Linked DNA regions of Homo sapiens. The protein of the gene in region 1 interacts with the protein of each later gene in a pairwise test. Each region holds a gene or a part of one and is shown in the gene's direction. Other genes may lie near its edges.

The links. The genes of interacting proteins can lie anywhere in the genome.
Region 2: the proteins of MAGEA4 (region 1) and TRIM69 interact in binary tests that used the Homo sapiens proteins (3 or more experiments, as listed by UniProt).
Region 3: the proteins of MAGEA4 (region 1) and ARNT2 interact in a two-hybrid assay, tested with the Homo sapiens proteins (one large-scale study listed by BioGRID and IntAct).
Region 4: the proteins of MAGEA4 (region 1) and UBXN6 interact in binary tests that used the Homo sapiens proteins (3 or more experiments, as listed by UniProt).

Annotation. Positions count from the first base shown.
Region 1 is NC_000023.11:151,922,889-151,925,670, forward strand, and holds the end of MAGEA4 (melanoma-associated antigen 4), read left to right. Parts: intron 1-323; exon of another isoform or gene 324-564; 5' UTR 565-636; intron 637-711; 5' UTR 712-776; coding exon 777-1,730; 3' UTR 1,731-2,282; downstream 2,283-2,782. UniProt on the Homo sapiens protein: Regulates cell proliferation through the inhibition of cell cycle arrest at the G1 phase. Also negatively regulates p53-mediated apoptosis.
Region 2 is NC_000015.10:44,743,028-44,746,527, forward strand, and holds part of TRIM69 (E3 ubiquitin-protein ligase TRIM69), read left to right. Parts: intron 1-3,500.
Region 3 is NC_000015.10:80,589,382-80,592,881, forward strand, and holds part of ARNT2 (aryl hydrocarbon receptor nuclear translocator 2), read left to right. Parts: intron 1-2,186; coding exon 2,187-2,323; intron 2,324-3,500. UniProt on the Homo sapiens protein: Transcription factor that plays a role in the development of the hypothalamo-pituitary axis, postnatal brain growth, and visual and renal function. Specifically recognizes the xenobiotic response element (XRE).
Region 4 is NC_000019.10:4,444,506-4,447,794, reverse strand, and holds the end of UBXN6 (UBX domain-containing protein 6), read left to right. Parts: exon of another isoform or gene 1-169; coding exon 170-245; exon of another isoform or gene 246-607; coding exon of another isoform or gene 608-690; exon of another isoform or gene 691-874; coding exon 875-959; exon of another isoform or gene 960-1,075; coding exon 1,076-1,295; exon of another isoform or gene 1,296-1,381; coding exon 1,382-1,512; exon of another isoform or gene 1,513-1,597; coding exon 1,598-1,746; exon of another isoform or gene 1,747-2,171; coding exon 2,172-2,297; 3' UTR 2,298-2,789; downstream 2,790-3,289. UniProt on the Homo sapiens protein: May negatively regulate the ATPase activity of VCP, an ATP-driven segregase that associates with different cofactors to control a wide variety of cellular processes.

The DNA of each region.
Region 1 (2,782 bases):
GGACACATGGGTTCCAATGAATTTCGACATCTTTTGCTGTCGTTCTTCGGAAGACCTAGGCACAGGTGGCCAGATGTGGGGTTTCTTAGGTCCTGTTCCCTCTCAGGCATGTGAGCTCTTGATCTGAGTTTCTCAGGCCAGCAAAAGAGTGGGATCCAGGCCCTGCCTGGAGAAATGTGAGGGCCCTGAGTGAACACAGTGGGGATCATCCACTCCATGAGAGTGGGGACCTCACAGAGTCCAGCCTACCCTCTTGATGGCACTGAGGGACCGGGGCTGTGCTTACAGTCTGCACCCTAAGGGCCCATGGATTCCTCTCCTAGGAGCTCCAGGAACAAGGCAGTGAGGCCTTGGTCTGAGACAGTGTCCTCAGGTTACAGAGCAGAGGATGCACAGGCTGTGCCAGCAGTGAATGTTTGCCCTGAATGCACACCAAGGGCCCCACCTGCCACAAGACACATAGGACTCCAAAGAGTCTGGCCTCACCTCCCTACCATCAATCCTGCAGAATCGACCTCTGCTGGCCGGCTATACCCTGAGGTGCTCTCTCACTTCCTCCTTCAGGTTCTGAGCAGACAGGCCAACCGGAGGACAGGATTCCCTGGAGGCCACAGAGGAGCACCAAGGAGAAGATCTGTAAGTAAGCCTTTGTTAGAGCCTCTAAGATTTGGTTCTCAGCTGAGGTCTCTCACATGCTCCCTCTCTCCGTAGGCCTGTGGGTCCCCATTGCCCAGCTTTTGCCTGCACTCTTGCCTGCTGCCCTGACCAGAGTCATCATGTCTTCTGAGCAGAAGAGTCAGCACTGCAAGCCTGAGGAAGGCGTTGAGGCCCAAGAAGAGGCCCTGGGCCTGGTGGGTGCACAGGCTCCTACTACTGAGGAGCAGGAGGCTGCTGTCTCCTCCTCCTCTCCTCTGGTCCCTGGCACCCTGGAGGAAGTGCCTGCTGCTGAGTCAGCAGGTCCTCCCCAGAGTCCTCAGGGAGCCTCTGCCTTACCCACTACCATCAGCTTCACTTGCTGGAGGCAACCCAATGAGGGTTCCAGCAGCCAAGAAGAGGAGGGGCCAAGCACCTCGCCTGACGCAGAGTCCTTGTTCCGAGAAGCACTCAGTAACAAGGTGGATGAGTTGGCTCATTTTCTGCTCCGCAAGTATCGAGCCAAGGAGCTGGTCACAAAGGCAGAAATGCTGGAGAGAGTCATCAAAAATTACAAGCGCTGCTTTCCTGTGATCTTCGGCAAAGCCTCCGAGTCCCTGAAGATGATCTTTGGCATTGACGTGAAGGAAGTGGACCCCGCCAGCAACACCTACACCCTTGTCACCTGCCTGGGCCTTTCCTATGATGGCCTGCTGGGTAATAATCAGATCTTTCCCAAGACAGGCCTTCTGATAATCGTCCTGGGCACAATTGCAATGGAGGGCGACAGCGCCTCTGAGGAGGAAATCTGGGAGGAGCTGGGTGTGATGGGGGTGTATGATGGGAGGGAGCACACTGTCTATGGGGAGCCCAGGAAACTGCTCACCCAAGATTGGGTGCAGGAAAACTACCTGGAGTACCGGCAGGTACCCGGCAGTAATCCTGCGCGCTATGAGTTCCTGTGGGGTCCAAGGGCTCTGGCTGAAACCAGCTATGTGAAAGTCCTGGAGCATGTGGTCAGGGTCAATGCAAGAGTTCGCATTGCCTACCCATCCCTGCGTGAAGCAGCTTTGTTAGAGGAGGAAGAGGGAGTCTGAGCATGAGTTGCAGCCAGGGCTGTGGGGAAGGGGCAGGGCTGGGCCAGTGCATCTAACAGCCCTGTGCAGCAGCTTCCCTTGCCTCGTGTAACATGAGGCCCATTCTTCACTCTGTTTGAAGAAAATAGTCAGTGTTCTTAGTAGTGGGTTTCTATTTTGTTGGATGACTTGGAGATTTATCTCTGTTTCCTTTTACAATTGTTGAAATGTTCCTTTTAATGGATGGTTGAATTAACTTCAGCATCCAAGTTTATGAATCGTAGTTAACGTATATTGCTGTTAATATAGTTTAGGAGTAAGAGTCTTGTTTTTTATTCAGATTGGGAAATCCGTTCTATTTTGTGAATTTGGGACATAATAACAGCAGTGGAGTAAGTATTTAGAAGTGTGAATTCACCGTGAAATAGGTGAGATAAATTAAAAGATACTTAATTCCCGCCTTATGCCTCAGTCTATTCTGTAAAATTTAAAAAATATATATGCATACCTGGATTTCCTTGGCTTCGTGAATGTAAGAGAAATTAAATCTGAATAAATAATTCTTTCTGTTAACTGGCTCATTTCTTCTCTATGCACTGAGCATCTGCTCTGTGGAAGGCCCAGGATTAGTAGTGGAGATACTAGGGTAAGCCAGACACACACCTACCGATAGGGTATTAAGAGTCTAGGAGCGCGGTCATATAATTAAGGTGACAAGATGTCCTCTAAGATGTAGGGGAAAAGTAACGAGTGTGGGTATGGGGCTCCAGGTGAGAGTGGTCGGGTGTAAATTCCCTGTGTGGGGCCTTTTGGGCTTTGGGAAACTCCATTTTCTTCTGAGGGATCTGATTCTAATGAAGCTTGGTGGGTCCAGGGCCAGATTCTCAGAGGGAGAGGGAAAAGCCCAGATTGGAAAAGTGCTCTGAGCGGTTCCTTTGTGACAATGGATGAACAGAGAGGAGCCTCTACCTGGGGCAGGAATGGAAGGTGTCTTGCGCTTTTGTCCCAGTGTTGTTGAACACAGTGCATGAGCTAGGTGATGGACACCCGTTATTTGCAAGGGTTTCCTGTGA
Region 2 (3,500 bases), on another chromosome or scaffold:
CAAAGCTAGAGGCATCATGCTACCTGACTTCAAACTATACTACAAGGCTACAGTAACCAAAACAGCATGGTACTGGTACCAAAACAGAGATAGAGATCAATGGAACAGAACAGAGCCCTCAGAAATAATGCCGCATATCTACAACTATCTAACCTTTGGAAACCTGAGAAAAACAAGCAATGGGGAAAGGATTCCCTATTTCATAAATGGTGCTGGGAAAACTGGCTAGCCATATGTAGAAAGCTGGAACTGGATCCCTTCCCTACACCTTATACAAAAATTAATTCAAGACTGATTAAAGACTTAAACATTAGACCTAAAACCATAAAAACCCTAGAAGAAAACCTAGGCATTACCATTCAGGACATAGGCATGGGCAAGGACTTCATGTCTAAAACACCAAAAGCAAGGGCAACAAAAGCCAAAATTGACAAATGCGATCTAATTAAACTAAAGAGCTTCTGCACAGCAAAAGAAACTACCATCAGAGTGAACAGGCAATCTACAAAATGGGAGAAAATTTTCGCAACCTACTCATCTGACAAAGGGCTAATATCCAGAATCTACAATGAACTCAAACAAATTTACAAGAAAAAAACAACCCCATCAAAAAGTGGGCAAAGGACATGAACAGACACTTCTCAGAAGACATTTATGCAGCCAAAATCACATGAAAAAATTCTCACCATCACTGGCCATCAGAGAAATGCAAATCAAAACCACAATGAGATACCATCTCACACCAGTTAGAATGGCATCATTGAAAAGTCAGGAAACAACAGGTGCTACAGAGGATGTGGATAAATAGGAACACTTTTACACTGTTGGTGGGACTGTAAACTAGTTCAACCATTGTGGAAGTCAGTGTGGTGATTCCTCAGGGATCTAGAACTAGAAATACCATTTGACCCAGCAATCCCATTACAGGGTATATACCCAAAGGACTATAAATCATGCTGCTATAAAGACACATGCACATGTATGTTTATTGTGGCACTATTCACAATAACAAAGACTTGGAACCAACCCAAATGTCCAACAATGATAGACTGGATTACGAAAATGTGGCACATATACACCATGGAATACTATGCAGCCATAAAAAATGATGAGTTCATGTCCTTTTTAGGGACATGGATGAAATTGGAAATCATCATTCTCAGTAAACTATTGCAAGGACAAAAAACCAAACACTGCATGTTCTCACTCATAGGTGGGAATTGAACACTGAGAACACATGGACACAGGAAGGGGAACATCACACTCTGGGGACTGTTGTGGGGTGGGGGGAGGGGGGAGGGATAGCATTAGGAGATATACCTAATGCTAAATGATGAGTTAATGGGTGCAGCACACCAACATGGCACATGTATACATATGTAACTAACCTGCACATTGTGCACATGTACCCTAAAACTTAAAGTATAATAATAATAAAAAAAATGGTGGAGTAGAGAAGTCCCAAAGTCCATCCCTCCACAAAAACTGGCAAAAATTTTGAAGATCGAGTTTTTTAAAACTTGAAACTAATCAAAAGCTTACAGCAACCAGGGAAATATTTAATAATAATTAAATAAAACCTTGAATCTCTGTAAAATAACTTTTTAACACTTTAACTTACTCAGGTTTTCCTCATTTCCCATCTTGGTGGTGGTTTTAAAGACAGCTGACATTCCAACTACAGGTACATAGTACAAGTGGGAGCAGCATGGACCTTATTCCCAAAGAACTGTGGCTTTGACCTGTCTGGTGCTTCCATGAAGTATTACATAAAAGGCTTGCCATTAGTTTGTTTAACTCAGAACTTTTTCACAGATGAGATGGCTACCCTGGAGGTATAGTTTGGAAACATTTAAAAGCAAATGTTTTTATTGCTGCCACCTGGGGAAAGGCATAATAGTTGGGGCAAACAATAGAGTAACCAAAAAGCTGAGAAAGAAAGGCTGGGGAAAGAGTTATTTTGGGGAATACCCTTTGAAAAGTACCCACATATTCCTGGTAATCTAGAAGGCCAACTGCATGCCCAGGACTGAGTGCATACTAAAAAAAAAAAAAAAACCTGAGAAAGACCCCAAGTTTTCTTCTCGGAGTGACTTTTAGGATCTGTGTAAGCAGGAACTGAGGACTAAGGAAGTTGTAAACTGTGTGTTGAAGGCATGCTCAACATATACGAAGCCCATTTACAAAGACTGGGAGGTTTTTGTTGTTGTTGTTGTTTGATTTGGGTTGATTCTAGGCATTTAAGGAAATCTCTGTTGAACTATTAGATGACTACTAAGTTCATGGGACAGAATTCAGTAGCTACATGTGACGAAGAATACAGACTTTACAAAATTTGTTTAGAAAAGTCACTAACTAAACAAAACAACTACAACAAGAAGTAACAAAAAACCCCAGAGAAGGTGGAAGATTCTGATTTCCAGAGATTTCACATTATACTTGTCAAAGTATCGGATATTCAACAAGTATAAATAAATAAGAACATATGGCCCATGGACAGGAGAAAAGGAAATTAATAGAAACTATTCCTGAGGAAGCTCAGACATTGGACTCACTAGACAAAGATTTTATATCAATTATTTTAAATATTCTCAAATAGCTAAAGGAAACAATTTGCAAATAAGGAAACCATGAGACTGATGTCTCACCAAATAGTGAATACCAGCAAAGATGTAGAAGTTATAAAAAGGAACCAAAGAGAAATTATGGTGTTGAAAAGCATAATAACTGAAATGAGAAATTCGCAAGAAGTGTTCAAATCAGATTTGAGCAGGCAAAAGAAAGAATTCATGAAACTGAAAATAGGTCAATTGAGATTATGCTGAAGATCAGGGAAAAAAAAGAATGAATAAAAATGAGCAGAGCCTCAGAAACCTGTGGGACTGTTATGCATAGTTGGAGTCCCAGAAGAGAGGAGAGAAGGGGACAGAAAGAATGCTTAAGGAAATAATGGTTTAAAACTTTTGAAATTTGACAAAAGGCATAAAGCTATACATCAAAGAAGCTCAACAAACTCTATGTAAGTTAACAGAGAGCCACACCAAGTTATAATTAAACTATTAAAAGCCAAAAATAATCTTAAAAGTAGCAAGAGTGAAGTGACTTATGTACAAGAGAGCCTCAATAAGTTAACAGCTAATTTTTCATCAGAAATCATGGAAGCCAGAGAGCAATGGGATGACATCTTCAAAGTAATTGAATAATCCACAAAGAATTTTGTATCTGGCCAAACTATCTTTCCAATATGAAGAAGAATTTAAGACATTCTCAGACAGACAAAAACTGAGCTTATCTCTAGTAGATCTTACCTACAAAAAATGACAAAGGGACTTCTTCAAGCTGAAATGAAGGGACATTAGACAATAACTTGAACCCAGACAAAGACATAAAAAAAGCACTCATCAAAGAACTACCTATTTTTGGTTTGTAACTCTTCTTTTTTTTCTAAAGTTTTAAAAGATAATAGCATAAACCAATAATTGTATATAAAAAAAGAAATC
Region 3 (3,500 bases), on another chromosome or scaffold:
GGGAAGGAGAGGTAGGTATGTACTTTAAGGAGGAAGGGCTGAGGGCATTGATTTGTGATGGGCAAGCCCCAAGGAAACCATCATTGCAGCAGCATCCTGGGTGAGCCTGTGTGGCAGTCATCTTCCTGAATGCATAAGGACATTCCCCCAGTCTACCATGCCCTTCCTTCAGCACAGGTGGCTATGTCCCTCCACCCTTCTGCCAAGCAACATGGACCCACTGAAGGCCCCATCTTGTGCTCAGCCTCTGCAGGCTTCCAGAATGGGACAGGTGCCTGTCAGGTGGGAATTTCCTCGTAGCTCCAGCTGGCGATGCTACTGTTTTAACTTTGCCACAGTTGTGGACCCAGCCTTCCCTCTGCTAAGCCAATTAATGAGGCCAGTCGACACGATTCTATGAAAGAGTTCCTCCTGGCCCTTGGGGTCTTGTGTGGGATCATTAGGAAAAGACATTTCACATAGGCAGATGAATTTTTTATAGCAGAATCCTATGTGCACAGTAGATTTAAATCTCTCTTATGCTAAGGAGGGGAATGTACCCTGCCTCAATTTTATAGAATTCCTTACCAACTATTGTCATCATGTAGAGTTTGAAAAGCACCAATGGTAAGGCATTAAAGGGACCTTATGCATTTTATTAAAGCCCTTTATGTCTCAGGCATTATATATGGGTGGATGGGTGGGAGAGAGAGCGAGGGAGAGAGAGAGATTCTTCTCCCTGAACACTTTCTAACCTGGCCTCACATTAACGCAGTGCCCAGGCTGGGGGTTGGGTGGGGCCTGAGGCTTCCCCGTGGCCAGCATGATCGTTGGAAAGAGTAGTATGGGACAAGATGGGGCTTCTCTTGCCACCCAGAGCTTGACAGAGAGCCCATTATCTCCAAAATGGTACTGAATGATTTGAAACAAGAAAAAAAGCTTCTAAGATTTTTGATGTTCCTTAAAGGTATCTTCTCTGAAGGTATTTTTTTAAGCCTCCTCTTTGGTTGAATCTCAAAAACGTTTTTAGACAAAATTCCACTTACTGGATCCTCTTTGGTTGAATCTCAAAAATGTTTTTCGACAAAAAACCACTTACTGGATAGGCACAGTGGCTCACTCATCCCAGCACTTTGGGAGGCCAGAGCAGGGGGACTGCATGAGGCCAGGAGTTTGAGACCAACCTGGGCAACAGAGCCAGACCCCATCTCTAAAAAAAAAATGTTTTTTAATTAGTCAGGCAATGTGGCATGAGCCTGTAGTCCCAGCTATGAGGGAGGCTGAGGCTGGAGGATTGGTTGAGCCCAGGATTTCAAGGCTGAAGTGAGCCATGATTGCACCACTGCATTCCAGCCAGGGCAGTGGAATAAGACTCTTTCTCGTATGTAAAAAACCAATTCCACTTATGTTTCCTATTTTTTGTTTTCTTCCATTGGCTGTTTTTTTGTATAAACTGTAGACAGAAGCAAAGTGGCTCTCATTTATAAATGAATTTGCTGATTCCCACAGAGGAACCTTATCTTGTCTGACCAGTGCCCAAATTTCTTCCCCTGCAAACAAACTGACGCAAAGAAAACACTCTGCCAAAGAGCCAGGCAGGAAAAGACTGTGGTGCTTGGCCCTGTAGGGGGACCTTGTATAATGCGTGTGTGGCTTCCGAGGAGTTGCTCGGGGGCAGAGGCTGAGGTTGGGAATGCCAAGATGAGGCTTTTCCTCTAGCAGGGCCAGATGCCTTTCAAGAGCATTCGGTGGACCGAGAGGGAATCAGGAGCAGGGGCAGGTGTGTCTTCCTCCTCATGCCAACACCATACTGCTGAGGACAGACCCTCTCTCAGCCCACACTCTGCATGCAACAGATATGCCCCTTGCCCCCCAGATGCCCGCAGGAGGCCTTTGTGCACAGTCACCAAGTGCAAGGAGCACTCCAAGGCTTAAAGCACCTAGTCACCTGGCAGGTGACCTCAGGAAGAGCCATCCTCTCTGGCCAAGTACCTGCACCATTGGGCAAAGGGCTCCTGTGTCTCTTATCCACTCCATTTATGATCTGTCAGCCAGTGAGAAAGACGAGGATAGCAAACACATTCCGCCAGCTCTGGATGGAACGTGCCTTTCAGAAGCGGGAGGCCCTCCAGCCGCAGTGGTTCTTAGGTCTCACAGAACCACGGGATGGCTTTTAAAGGAAGTGTCCTGTGTGTCGAATCTTTCAGCTGAAAGTGGACAAAGTAGCGGGCAGTTCCAAGGGCGGCCCTCGGAAGTCTGGTCGCAGTGGCAAAGCCAGCACCATGGCCAGCAGAGCGGTGAGCAGCACTCCCACCAGCAGCCCGGTCAGACTGAAGTGTTCCAGGTAAATCGAGCGAGCACCGCCTTCTCGTAGGTACCGGCGCCTTCTCTCTGCTTCCTTTCCCCCTCGGTCTCTGCCGCACCACCGCCTGCCCGATAGCCGTCGTGAGTTCTGGCCCAGCCTGGGCTCGAGGGAGTCCAGGAGTAGAAAGCCCCATCCTACCCAGCCAGAAACGTCAGGTGCATGTGGGAAGGAGAAGGGGCTGATGTAGCCTTCGAGCTAAGCCACACAATAGAGGAGGCTGCAGTTGGAGATGCTTCCCAGACTCCAGAGCTATCCAGGGTAGAGGCACAAAACCAAGGCCAAAGGGGGTCTCTCCTAAGAGCTGCAGGCACCCCCAGGCTTGGCTGTCTGTCACTGGCTGACCCTCTTTCTTCCCACCGTAGCCCCCAGGATGTGGAGGACATCCCCACCCAGGCCCTTGCTCAGTGCCAGCCTTGCCCTGGCTCTGCTCTCCTCTGTGGTTAAGCTCAGGGAGAGTCCCCGATTGAGGATACCTGGGCACCTTGAAACTCTCCATTATTTGAGACCTTTCTAGACCATCCCTCGTGTCTAAGGCAGACTGTGTGGCTGGGGATGGCACTGCTGCAGCCCCACAGAGCAGGCCCCTGCCCTTTGTGGGCTTCCTTGGCTCAACTTTCAGCCAGAAACATTCCTACTGGAAGGCTTCAAATGGAGGTACGAGCCCATTAACTCCCCTTCAGCCATCCCTCCAGGTCCTTCTAACAGGAACCCAGGCACGTCCTGCATGCCCCAGGCCTGCCCTGCAAAGCAATGATAGGGGCAGGAACCACATCGTGGGAGGGTTCTGAGACTCCCAGGATTGCAACCCCTCCTTCTCAAGAATCAGTGCTCCATATACCCCACCCTCATCCCAAGCCCCTCTCCTGCCGGGGTCAGCTGTGTCTTCACAGACAAAGGCCTGGGACTCAGATGTCACTCAGGGCAGCATTCTGTGAATGTACAGGGGAACGGCTCACCCAGGCCTTCGCCTGCCTCCCCTGACTGCAGCCATCTCCTCCTTCCTCCTTCTGTAAGGCCTTGTTCCTTGCCCATTCTGAGGCCCCACAGCAACCCTGTAAGGCAGAATTTCCTGACATGGATCTTCATGGTCACGATGCTAAAAAGAATTCTTGGCCAAATAAGCTTACGAAAAACTGGTTAAACAAAGTTATTGAGT
Region 4 (3,289 bases), on another chromosome or scaffold:
GTGTGCCTTCCACCCGGAGATGGTCTGCTGCCCTCGCGTCACTGGGCCGCTTCTTCCCTCTGACTAGAGGCCAAGTGTGGCTGAGCTGCTGTTACCTGGAGCAGGAGGCACAGAGGGGCCGGGTGGGCAGCCTGGGCTGTGCCCCACTCACCTTCTCCACCTACCCCAGGTACCTGGACAACATCCACCTGCACCCCGAGGAGGAGAAGTACCGGAAGATCAAGCTGCAGAACAAGGTGTTTCAGGTGGGCGTGCCTTCTGGCCCCCGGGGCCCAGGCTGGGGGTGGGGGCAGCTGGCCTGCAGGAGCCGGTGGTGGCCCACACCAGGCGGTGGGCTCCCTGGAGGAGCTAGCGAGAGTTGAGCCACAAGCAGTGAAGGGTTCGGCCAGTAGAAGGTAGCAGGACAAGATGGAGAGCAAGACTTTTATGCACCGGTCACCCCAAATCAACAAATTCTGCCTCTCCTCACCTGCATCCTTTTCCTCCTCTTCAGCTGGGCTTGTTTGGGAACATGTCGACTCTGGGGAGGTTTCTCATGCAAACCAGATGTCTGGTTCTTCTGGGGGAAAGGGCAGGGACTGGGGTCCTGGGCGGTGTTAGCCTCGCATCAGGCCCCAGCAGTGTCTGGCTCCTCAGCCTCACTCTTCGTGCCTGGTTGTGACTCTTTCCTCTGTGCAGAGCTGTTGGAGACTCCACAGCCCCCACCGTAGAAAAGCAGGTTTGCATCCAGCACTGAGGCACCCCCAGGGCTGGGCCCCATCCAGGGGTCGACAGCTGCTCCCAATAGCGAGAGCCGGGCCCCTGGACTGGGTGGGGTGTGGCCAGGCCATGGAGGAAGCCAGGGGCCCCCAGTGACGCCCATCTCCACCCCCAGGAGCGCATTAACTGCCTGGAAGGGACCCACGAGTTTTTTGAGGCCATTGGGTTCCAGAAGGTGTTGCTTCCCGCCCAGGATCAGGGTAAGTGGACAGGGCCTGGCTGAGTAGGGAATGGGGACGAGGGGCCTCGGGGCAGGAGGGCCCGGCTTGGGGGTCTCTCCATTGCACAGTGACACCCATGTCCTGCCACGCTGTAGAGGACCCCGAGGAGTTCTACGTGCTGAGCGAGACCACCTTGGCCCAGCCCCAGAGCCTGGAGAGGCACAAGGAACAGCTGCTGGCTGCGGAGCCCGTGCGCGCCAAGCTGGACAGGCAGCGCCGCGTCTTCCAGCCCTCGCCCCTGGCCTCGCAGTTCGAACTGCCTGGGGACTTCTTCAACCTCACAGCAGAGGAGATCAAGCGGGAGCAGAGGCTCAGGTGGGCCTGACGTCCGCGGAGCAGAGTGGGGCGGGGCGGGGTGGAAGAACCCCGGCCAGCCCTCGTGACCTGGCCCGCGTGTGCAGGTCCGAGGCGGTGGAGCGGCTGAGCGTGCTGCGGACCAAGGCCATGCGGGAGAAGGAGGAGCAGCGGGGGCTGCGCAAGTACAACTACACGCTGCTGCGCGTGCGCCTCCCCGATGGCTGCCTCCTGCAGGGTGGGCACCAACGATGCCCGTGGAGGGCGGCTCGGGTTGGTAGGGGGCCCTGGGCCCCACCCGCTCTGACTCCCCCACTCCCCAGGCACTTTCTACGCTCGGGAGCGGCTGGGGGCGGTGTACGGGTTCGTCCGGGAGGCCCTGCAGAGCGACTGGCTGCCTTTTGAGCTGCTGGCCTCGGGAGGGCAGAAGCTGTCCGAGGACGAGAACCTGGCCTTGAACGAGTGCGGGCTGGTGAGTGTCGGCCCGCAGGAGCACCGCTGACCCGATGCCTCTGCAGGTTCTCCTGGGACCGGCACAGACACCCCCAGGAGGGAGCCTCCTTGTTCTCAGAGCAGGGGGCCTGGGCAGGTCCCTGGGTTTGAATCCTGCTTTCCCACTTACTGGCAGCAGGGCCTCGAGCAAGTTCATAACTACTCCACGCCTCAGTTTCCCCATCAAATGGGAGCGGTGACGTGCGTTAGCTAGTGCAGTAGGTTTAGGCTTAGGTCCTGGAGTCCCGGAGGGAGAGGGCAGGAGGCCTGGGTGCGAGCCACAGCCTCCACCAGCTGAGATGGCTTCCAGGCCGGGGCATCCCCGCGCCCAGGTTGCCCGCTGAGTTCCCTGCCGCGGCAAGGGCCGACTCTCGGTCTCAGAGTGACGGCCTACCCCTACCGCAGGTGCCCTCTGCCCTCCTGACCTTCTCGTGGGACATGGCTGTGCTGGAGGACATCAAGGCCGCGGGGGCCGAGCCGGACTCCATCCTGAAACCCGAGCTCCTGTCAGCCATCGAGAAGCTCTTGTGAAATAAAAGCAGGGTTGGCCTCAGCCCTGTGGGTCTGTCTCATGCTCTCCCTGTTCCTCTCCCCGCCACCCCAGGGCCTCCAAGCCACCTCTGGAAATACTTGGCTCTGCCCCATGGGCACGGGAGGGGCGCCAGCCGTGGAGCTGTGGAATTGGGCCCCGTGGCAGAGCCCCCATCCCTTGGGGGCTGTGGGGATGCGCCCAAGCCCCCGAGGGAGAGGCCTGGGGACACCAACAAATCTAAGCCCTCCCTAGCTGCTTGGTAACTGTGTCATGAAGCTGCCGGACAGACACACGTGGCATCTCCCTGGGCAGGAGAGCAGGCCTGCAGCATGGGTCCTGTTCCCGTGTGCCGTGGGTGGCAGTGGCTGCACCTGGCACTAGGGCTGCTCTGTGGATGTGGGTGACAACGGCAGGAGGGGATGCTGGCCTTCCTGCACATAGACCTGCAGTTAGTAAATCATAAGCCCAAATAAACAGGTTGTTTGAATATAGTTTCTTGGTTCTCCGTTGAAACCGTGGGACACAGGGCAGGCCCACCTGCTGAAGAGCGGATGGCTTGGGGGCTGGGTGTGGCTCCCTGTCAAGGTGGGACCATGTGGATACCTGTTCTCAGGCCAGCACCTGGCCACAAGTGCCCGATGAGCCACCCACCTGGGGAGGAAGTCCCGTGCGCTAGGGGAGGCTGTGCTGTGCCCACAAAGGCCCAGTCCCTGCAGGGGAGGCGAGTGCTGTCACAGGCCTGGCTTCCCTGTGGCCAGAGGGACAGGGTGTCCTGAGACGGCCACATCCTATTCCTGGAACCTGCAGATGCGCAACTTCACCTGGCAAGAGGGGCTTGGGTATGATGAAAGGTCTTGAGCTGGGAGATGATCCTGGGTGGTCCGGGACCCAGTGTCCTCACAAGAGGTGGCAGGAGGGTGAATCAGAGAGAGACTGGAAGAGGCTGCGCATGGCTGTGAAGGTGGAGGAAGGGACCCCGAGCTGAGGGATG